2 linked regions of the Homo sapiens genome follow. The protein of the gene in region 1 interacts with the protein of each later gene in a biochemical or structural test. Each region holds a gene or a part of one and is shown on either strand. Other genes may lie near its edges.

Evidence for each region. Proteins that work in one complex are often made in the same cells at the same time.
Region 2: the proteins of NF2 (region 1) and SPTBN1 form a complex in vitro, tested with the Homo sapiens proteins (2 studies listed by BioGRID and IntAct).

Annotation. Positions count from the first base shown.
Region 1 is NC_000022.11:29,601,563-29,605,305, reverse strand, and holds the start of NF2 (merlin), read right to left. Parts: upstream 1,674-3,743; 5' UTR 1,308-1,673; coding exon 1,194-1,307; intron 1-1,193. UniProt on the Homo sapiens protein: Probable regulator of the Hippo/SWH (Sav/Wts/Hpo) signaling pathway, a signaling pathway that plays a pivotal role in tumor suppression by restricting proliferation and promoting apoptosis.
Region 2 is NC_000002.12:54,454,234-54,457,976, reverse strand, and holds the start of SPTBN1 (spectrin beta chain, non-erythrocytic 1), read right to left. Parts: upstream 1,651-3,743; 5' UTR 1,459-1,650; intron 1,247-1,458; exon of another isoform or gene 1,012-1,246; intron 811-1,011; exon of another isoform or gene 670-810; intron 586-669; exon of another isoform or gene 490-585; intron 269-489; exon of another isoform or gene 174-268; intron 1-173. UniProt on the Homo sapiens protein: Fodrin, which seems to be involved in secretion, interacts with calmodulin in a calcium-dependent manner and is thus candidate for the calcium-dependent movement of the cytoskeleton at the membrane.

The DNA of each region.
Region 1 (3,743 bases):
GTAATCCCAGCTACCTGGAAGGCTGAAGCAGGAGAATCACTTGAACCTGGAAGTGGAGGTGGCAGTGAGACAAGATCGCGCCATTGCACTCTAGCCCGGTGCACTCTGGGTGACAGAGCGAGACTCCGTCTCAAAAAAAAAAAAAAAAAAAAAATTAGCCAGGTGTGGTGGCACACGCCTGTGGTCCCAGCTACTCGAGAGGCTGAGGCAGGAGGACTGATTGAGCCAGGGAGGTTGGTCAGGGTTGCAGTAAGCCATGATCACACTACTGCATGCCAGCCTCGGTGACAGAGTGAGATTCTGTCTCAAAACGAAACAAAACAAAAAAGAATTTTCACCAGTTTTACAGAGGAATGGGTTCCTTAAGCTGTCATGCTGGAAGCTGATCTTATCTAAGGCTGCTTTTGTGTTACAATGGTAGAGTTGAAGAGTTGAATAACTCCAACAGAGATTCTCTAGTCTACAAAGTTGAAAATATTTACTATGTGGTCCTGTACAGAAAAAGCATGCCAACCCTTGCTTACTGCTGCCAATGCTGCTGGTCCACAAACCACACTTTTAGCAGCAAGAACTTAAATTACTTGAGAAGCAGTACTGTACGGGCTGTGAGCTTGGTTCAAAACCCCACCTTGCCATTTACTAGATAAATGGGTTTGTTCTGAGGATTAAATGTGCAAATGTCTAGCACTTTGAAAATACTGAACAATTGATAGCTGTTATCATCATGTTGGAAACTATGTGGAAAGTAAGTATGAGATGTTATATCGTTCTTCAAAGGGTTTTTTTTCCCAGAATATGCAAGCTTTAGAAAAGGGAAACAAGTATTGGCTTTCCAATAAACAAGACGCAACTTCTAATACCTGGGTACATAACAATATTACCTAATGAAAGAATAAACTTTCAAGCTTTTAAGCGTAAGCCTAACTTAAGCCTGACACTGAAATCCTGAATTTTCTATCACAGGAGCATCCAGCTTCTTCCAATAACAATGAATGAAAATAACCTTCAGGAAATGCCAAAACCCAAAAGTCCTATGAAAAAAAGCAGCAATCATCTTTAACATGAGGTTTTGGGCCTAGTTGGCCCTTCCGGTTCTGCCCGTCTCTAGCTACACCCATAAGATGATATAAAGAGAACCTCTCGAGCTTCCACCTCGACTGTCACCGCAGCAGTCGGGGCTGCCGGCCGGTTACCTCGCAATTGAACTCCATCTCGGCGTCCATGGTGACGATCCTCACGGTGAACGTCTTGGGTTGCTTCCTCTTGAGAGAGCTGAAGCTCATGCGGGAAGCGATGGCCCCGGCCATGGCGCGGGGCTCAGGCCCGGGACCCTCGCGCCCCACGGCCTGCACTCTGAGCCCTTTAGCCCCCCTGGAGTTGCTGCACAGGCCTCAGGGCCACCATGGTGGCCGGCTGCCCGGCCCGGGAACGGTCTGGGCTGCGCGGGTCCCCAGCGGCCAGCATGGGCCGCGAGGACCCTGCCTGAGCGGAAAGGGGAGTTGGGGGACGGGCCCTGACGGCTGCAGGGAGGGCACAGGAGCCGGGACCTTCGGTGCAGGCGCGACCCGGCACTCCGGGATTCGGGCCGGAGATGCCGGGGACGCCTCGGGACGGGACCCCTAGACGGCAGCGGCCCAGACTCCGCGCGCCTCTCAGCGGCCGACTAGGGTCACGGGGCCGCGCTGCATCGGGCGCGTACGCGCGCGCGTGGCTGTCACCGTCCTCACTCCGCGCGCCCGCGGGAAGCGCACCCTCCCCACAGCCCGGGGCCTGCTCCCGGCCCCGCCCTCAGGTCGCCCAGACCACTACGCGCAGCGCAACCGAACCGGAGGCTGACGCATAGATGCTGCGATTGGCTGGGAAGGCCAAGGTAGGCAGGACTTTCCCGCTCCGTCCCGCCTCCTTTGGGGTGACTCCACCAATGGAAAGTTTCACTCTAACTGCAAAAAAAGCAGGCCTAGGCTCGGCGTTGAGTGGCTACAGTGGCAGTCACTCTGAATGCTTTTGTGCCTACTCTAACAAGACTGGTTGAGGCGGCGGACCTCTGCTGACCTTACCCGGGAAACCACTTAGAGGCTGGATCCGGGGCGAGGGGAATTGGGTCCTTCGTTGGCCCAGGGAGGGACTCTTCGGTTCAAGTAGGCTCCGAGTGTGGCGCCCCAGGGGACTGCGTTTCGGACACACGGCGAATATTCTTCTTTGGCAGTTAATCACATATACCGACCCCTATGAAACTTTAAAGACACTTGTGGAGGCCTGTTAGGTTTGCTGGCACTTTCCCGCCAGATCCCTCTGCTTCCCTTTAGAATTATTATTATTATTGTTATTATTATTATTATTAATTATTATTATTATTGGGACGGAGTTTCGCTCTTGTTGCCCAGGCTGGAGTGCAGTGGCGCGATCTCGGCTCACTGCAACCTCCGCCTCCCGGGTTCAAGCGATTTTCCGGCGTCAGCCTCCCGAGTAGCTGGGATTACAGGTATGCGTCACCACGCCCGGCTAATTTTGTATTTTTATTAGAGACGGGGTTTCTCCATGTTCGTCAGGCTGGTCTCGAACCTCAGGTGATCCGCCCGCCTCGGCCTCCCGAAGTGCTAGGATTACAGGCGTGAGCCACCACGCCCCGCCTAGAATTATTATTGGTTATACCTACCTCGTGAGGTTGTTGAATTTCAGCGCACTGAATACATATAAGGCTTTAGAGCTGAGCCTGGCATCCTATGAAATTGCTGAATTTGGGTTGAAAATGAAAGCATTCTTTATTTTATACTCTATGATGCCCATTTTTGAACCGTATTCATGTATTATTTATTTAGTGTCATCAAGGGTTCTAACGGGTGTAGGGGGGATAATTACACCTTTCTGTACTTAGATAATAAATTCTATTTTAAAATAGCTCTTAGTAGTCAAATAGGGACAATTTACTGTGTTTTTTCGTTTGTTTTTTGTTTTGAGACAGAGTTTCGCTCTTGTTGCCCAGGCTGGAGTACAATGGGGCGGTCTCGGCTCTCTGCAACCTCCGCCTCCCGGGTTCAAGCAATTCTCCTGCCTCAGCCTCCCCAGTAGTTGGGATTACAGGCACCCGCCACCACGCCCGGCTAATTTTTGTATTTTTAGTAGGGACGGGGTTTCACCATGTTAGCCAGGCTGGTCTCAAACTTCTGACCTCAGGTGATCTGCCCACCTTGGCCTCCCAAAGTGCTGGGATTACAGGCGTGAGCCACCGCGCCCGGTGTACTGAGTTTTAACAACAATAATCACCCCATAAATGTTAGCTAACATTAGCATCACCCCCCCAACTCCACAGGTGAAGATACTGAGAGATATGATAGAGCCACTCGCTGACTATAATGCAGATAGTGAAAGGCAAAGCTAGGACTCAAACCCAGGTCTGTCCCACCCAGAGCCTGCTGGTTAGCACTGTGCTGCCCTGCTTCCAAATTCTCCCTACTACAGCCTCAGGAAATGTGAATTACAGTTCCGGAGTACTCAGCAGACATTGTTGCTGTAACGGTATATTAATGGAATAAATCTAGTTCTTCTGCACGGACCCCTGCTGTGCCTGGTAGCACCGGCCAGGCCTCAGGAATGATTTGCTGCCACACCCAGTGAGGCTGCTGTGGGGACTTTATGTCCTGCCTTCTGCTAGCAAATTCTCCCCACCAAAACTGATTGCTCAGGGCAGTATGGGCTTGGCATGGGAGTGTCTTCATTATCATTGCTTCATTTCTTCCCCGCAG
Region 2 (3,743 bases), on another chromosome or scaffold:
GCCCCTCCCTATGGCTCAGGTCCCCTGGTCGCAGATCAGATTCCGATCCGCAACCACAGGCCGGCTCCCCTCTGCCTGCACTGGTGATGCAGGGCGCCCCTCCGGCAGAGCGCAGCCCAAGAAGAGGTGCAGGAGGGATCATCCCAAAAGAAAAGACTCTCCCCTGCTCACACCTAGCTGACCTGGTCCTCCTGACGCCACATCCAGCAGAAGCTGCAGGACAAGGTAGCAGCAGCTCCAGGCCTCGGCCAAGGGCAGCCCCGGGCCTGGGTGGGGCCGGGCGGGGGCCGCAGGCGCCGAGCGGCCGTGCCAAGCCCCGCCAGCGAGAACCAAGGAAGCTGCGATACTGCTGCATTGTGCTGCATCACGGCGAGGGCACCGTGAGCCATCCATCTTGCCAAAAAAGCACATCCCCGCCCAAATAAACCCCACCGAATTCAATTTTCTGCTCCGCCGAAGCACCCCCACACGCACCCTGTCCTCACTTACTATCTGGCCTGGCTTTCGATTGGAAAAATAATGGACAGAGGTTTGCGTTCTGATCCCCACCCCCTCCTCATCTGATGGCAGCAGTTGGCACCTTTCCTATCACAAAAACAAAGAGAAGGCGCCCCCTAAAAGAGGGCCGTGGGCGTGGTGTGGGGGGTGATGACGAGCCAGCCCACCTACCCAAAGCAGGCCCGGAGGGTCCCTGCGCTGAGACAAACCTGTTGAAGAGAGGGTGGCAGGAGCTGAAGGGCGGGCGCAGCGGCGGCTCGGCGCCCGGAGGCGGCTCACGCCCAGCCCTGGGAGAGTGGGGACGGCAGAAAGGGCGGGGGGGGGGCGGGCGCACGAGGGTAGCAAGCGCAGGGATGGGGCGGAGGTGGGGGCGCGGGGCCGCCGCCTCCGGCTCAGCTGCAGCGCGGCGCAGCCGGGACCACGCCTGGCCGCATCCCCTGCACCGCTACGCGCAGAGCCCGGCCCTGTCACCGCCGCCCCCGCTCCCCACCCGCGGGGCCACAGAGAGGGCACCTGAAAATAGACCCTCCGGCTGTCCGCTGTCCGCTCCGCACCCACCTCCGCGCCAGGGGCCTCCGCGTCAGGGGCCGCCGCGCCCGGCTGCAGGGAGGCGCCGGCGGAGGCAGGGAGGAGGAATCGCCGCGCCGCGCCGGGGCTGGGGCCGGACGGCAGCGGTGCGCACGGCGGGTCTGCTGCCGCCTCACCGCAGAGCCTGCCGCCCCTCGTCCCGCATCATCCGAGTACCAATGAGCACCCGCGACCCGGGCTCCCCGCGCCGCCCCCGCCCGGGCTTTGCAGCCTCCCTGCCCCCACGCGGCTCCCCGGGCGCAGGGCAGGCGGGCAGCGGCGTCCTCCGGCCCTGGGCCCGCGCCCCTCCTCCCGCCCGTCCGCCGCCGCGGAGCCCACCCGGGAGGCAGCCCCAGTGAGTTGGCATCTCCCTGCCTCGGGCCCCCTACCTACCTCCCGGGGATGGGGTGGGGGCGCCGGGGTCCCGTCCTCCTCCCGCTCCTCGGCGGCCGGGCGGGTGGGCCGGGAGGCGACTCCGCGGGTCTGTCCGCGGCTGGGGCCGGGGCTCACAGGACGGGACCAGTGGGCGCTGCTGCGCAGGGCTGCGCGCTCGCTCCGGGAGGAGAGGCGGCCGAGGGAGGGACTGGAGGAATCCGCAGCCTGCACGGCAACAGCGGCACTGATTCCGGGGGCTGGGCGGGAGCGCGGGGGGCGGGGGGAGGAGGAGAGGAGGGCGCTCGCAGGGAGGGGGCGAGGGGCGGGGAGAGGAGCGCGCGGGGCGGGCGCGCGCGCACACACACACAAGCGCACTCCCGGGATCCCTCCCGCACGCCCTCCGCCCTCCGCACTCCTCCCTCCCCACTCCCGCCCGCTCCCTCTGCTTCGCCCGCCCTCTCCTCCTGCCCGGAGCCCCGCAGCCGCCCAGGGAGCCGAGCCTCGGGCGCGTCCACGTCCTCTCCAGCTGAGGCTCTTCCCGGGTCCAGCCCGGACCTCATCCTCCCAGCGGCGGGGACCGACCAGGCTGGCCGGGGCGGGGTGGGCACTGCTGCTGCCGCTACCCGAGCAGGACAATAGGGGCTTTGTCTCCACAGCCGGAGAGGGCCAATTTCACGTTTAATTTGAGGCTAATTCGATTATCGCCATGGAAAGAGGCGGTCTAATTTTCTACGTGATTTGTGCAGCCTCTTTTCGCCCTTGATGTTGCGTTCGGAATGCTGGGGAGAGAGGGTATTTAGGGAGGTTTTGGAGCGTCACTTGCTTGGTTGGTTTGAGATGCAGTTGGTGATGCCTTATAGGTTCTACCCAACTTGGAGAAGGGCGACGGCGACCTCTTCGTGGGAAACCTTGGGCGCTGGAGGATGGGTGGTGGGGGTCGTTCCTTGTGAGGTTAATGTATTCTTTTGCAAATGCTTTTTCGCCCACCCTTTCGCTTTGGGTAGCTGGGAGCAGACCCTACAAGTGGTTCATCCAACTCCTGCCTCTCAGTGCAGGCTCCGCTCGAACCTGAGGCCAGGTGCCCTGCCCCAGTCACTCCCGAGAGAGGGGTCGTCCGGCCGCGGTGGAGGGCCCCGTGATGGCGTGGGGACTTGCGTTTTCCCCTATGCGCATTCCCTGAAACGGAAACTGGACGTTTCCTCAAATTTTTGTCATGTGCCACTGCCCCTTCCCAGTCACCTGGTCTACCCCGTCAGCCCCTCAGGCTGTGTAGAAATTCCAGAACCGTCACTGTTGTGAAGAAAAGATGGTGGAATCACCAGGACCACGAATGGAAACGCTCTTTAGAAAAGCAGTTTGAAGAAACTGACTTTCTCCTTGTTCTGTAAAGTGCACAGGGCGGCACTGCGGGCATTCAGAGGGAGGAGGGCCCTTCCTGTTTGAAAAAGCCCCAGGGCTTTTTCCCCATACAGACCTGATCACCTGGATTAAAATAAAACAAAAATACACGGCAGCCAAGTAGTTTGTATCATGCTTATATCTCAGATCACTAGAACCTGGCCTGATGGGTTTATATGTTTGTATGTATTTTTAAATGAATATTTTAAAATAAAACTCAGTGAAATCGTCACAGCAAACTGAAGATGATTCTTCCTTTTAGGCCTTCATAGGTTTGAATGTTTGAACCTATGTTTACTTTTGATAGGAAAAAAATTGAGGAAAGCAAATAACATTTTTTCTCAGAAGGTGAATCAACACAACCAGACCGTAAACTCTCTTAAAGGTAGGGTTATTTCTTTCTTCACTCTGTACATATAGCAGGCACTTAGGTACTAAAACAAATTTGTTGAATTGAACACAATCAACTTGTAAGCTGCTGCCCTCATTAGGTAATAAGGGAAATCCACTAGAAAGCAAAGTTGTTTGCCTTTCACTTACTTATTTTTTTACCATGGACCCCAGCACCTCCCCACTCACAATGTTAATGAAATACCAAAGAAAACAGTAACAATATTGGGAAGTGCATCCATTTAAATTAATTCTTCCAGTGTTATTCTGAAATGGTTATTCCTTTATCACAGACAACGGTATTTAAATAAATTTTCATTTGATGAATGATTCACCTCCCTTACCCCATTCCACTCCCACTTACGTTGTTTTTTAATTAAAAAAAAAAAAAAGGCCACACACACCTTAGCAAGGTACTCTAGTAAAGCCCCAGTAATTATTCCAAAAATGTGAAAGACAAGGATTCAGAGTTCTACTGTAAATACCTGCATCACAATTTTGAATTCTTACCCTTA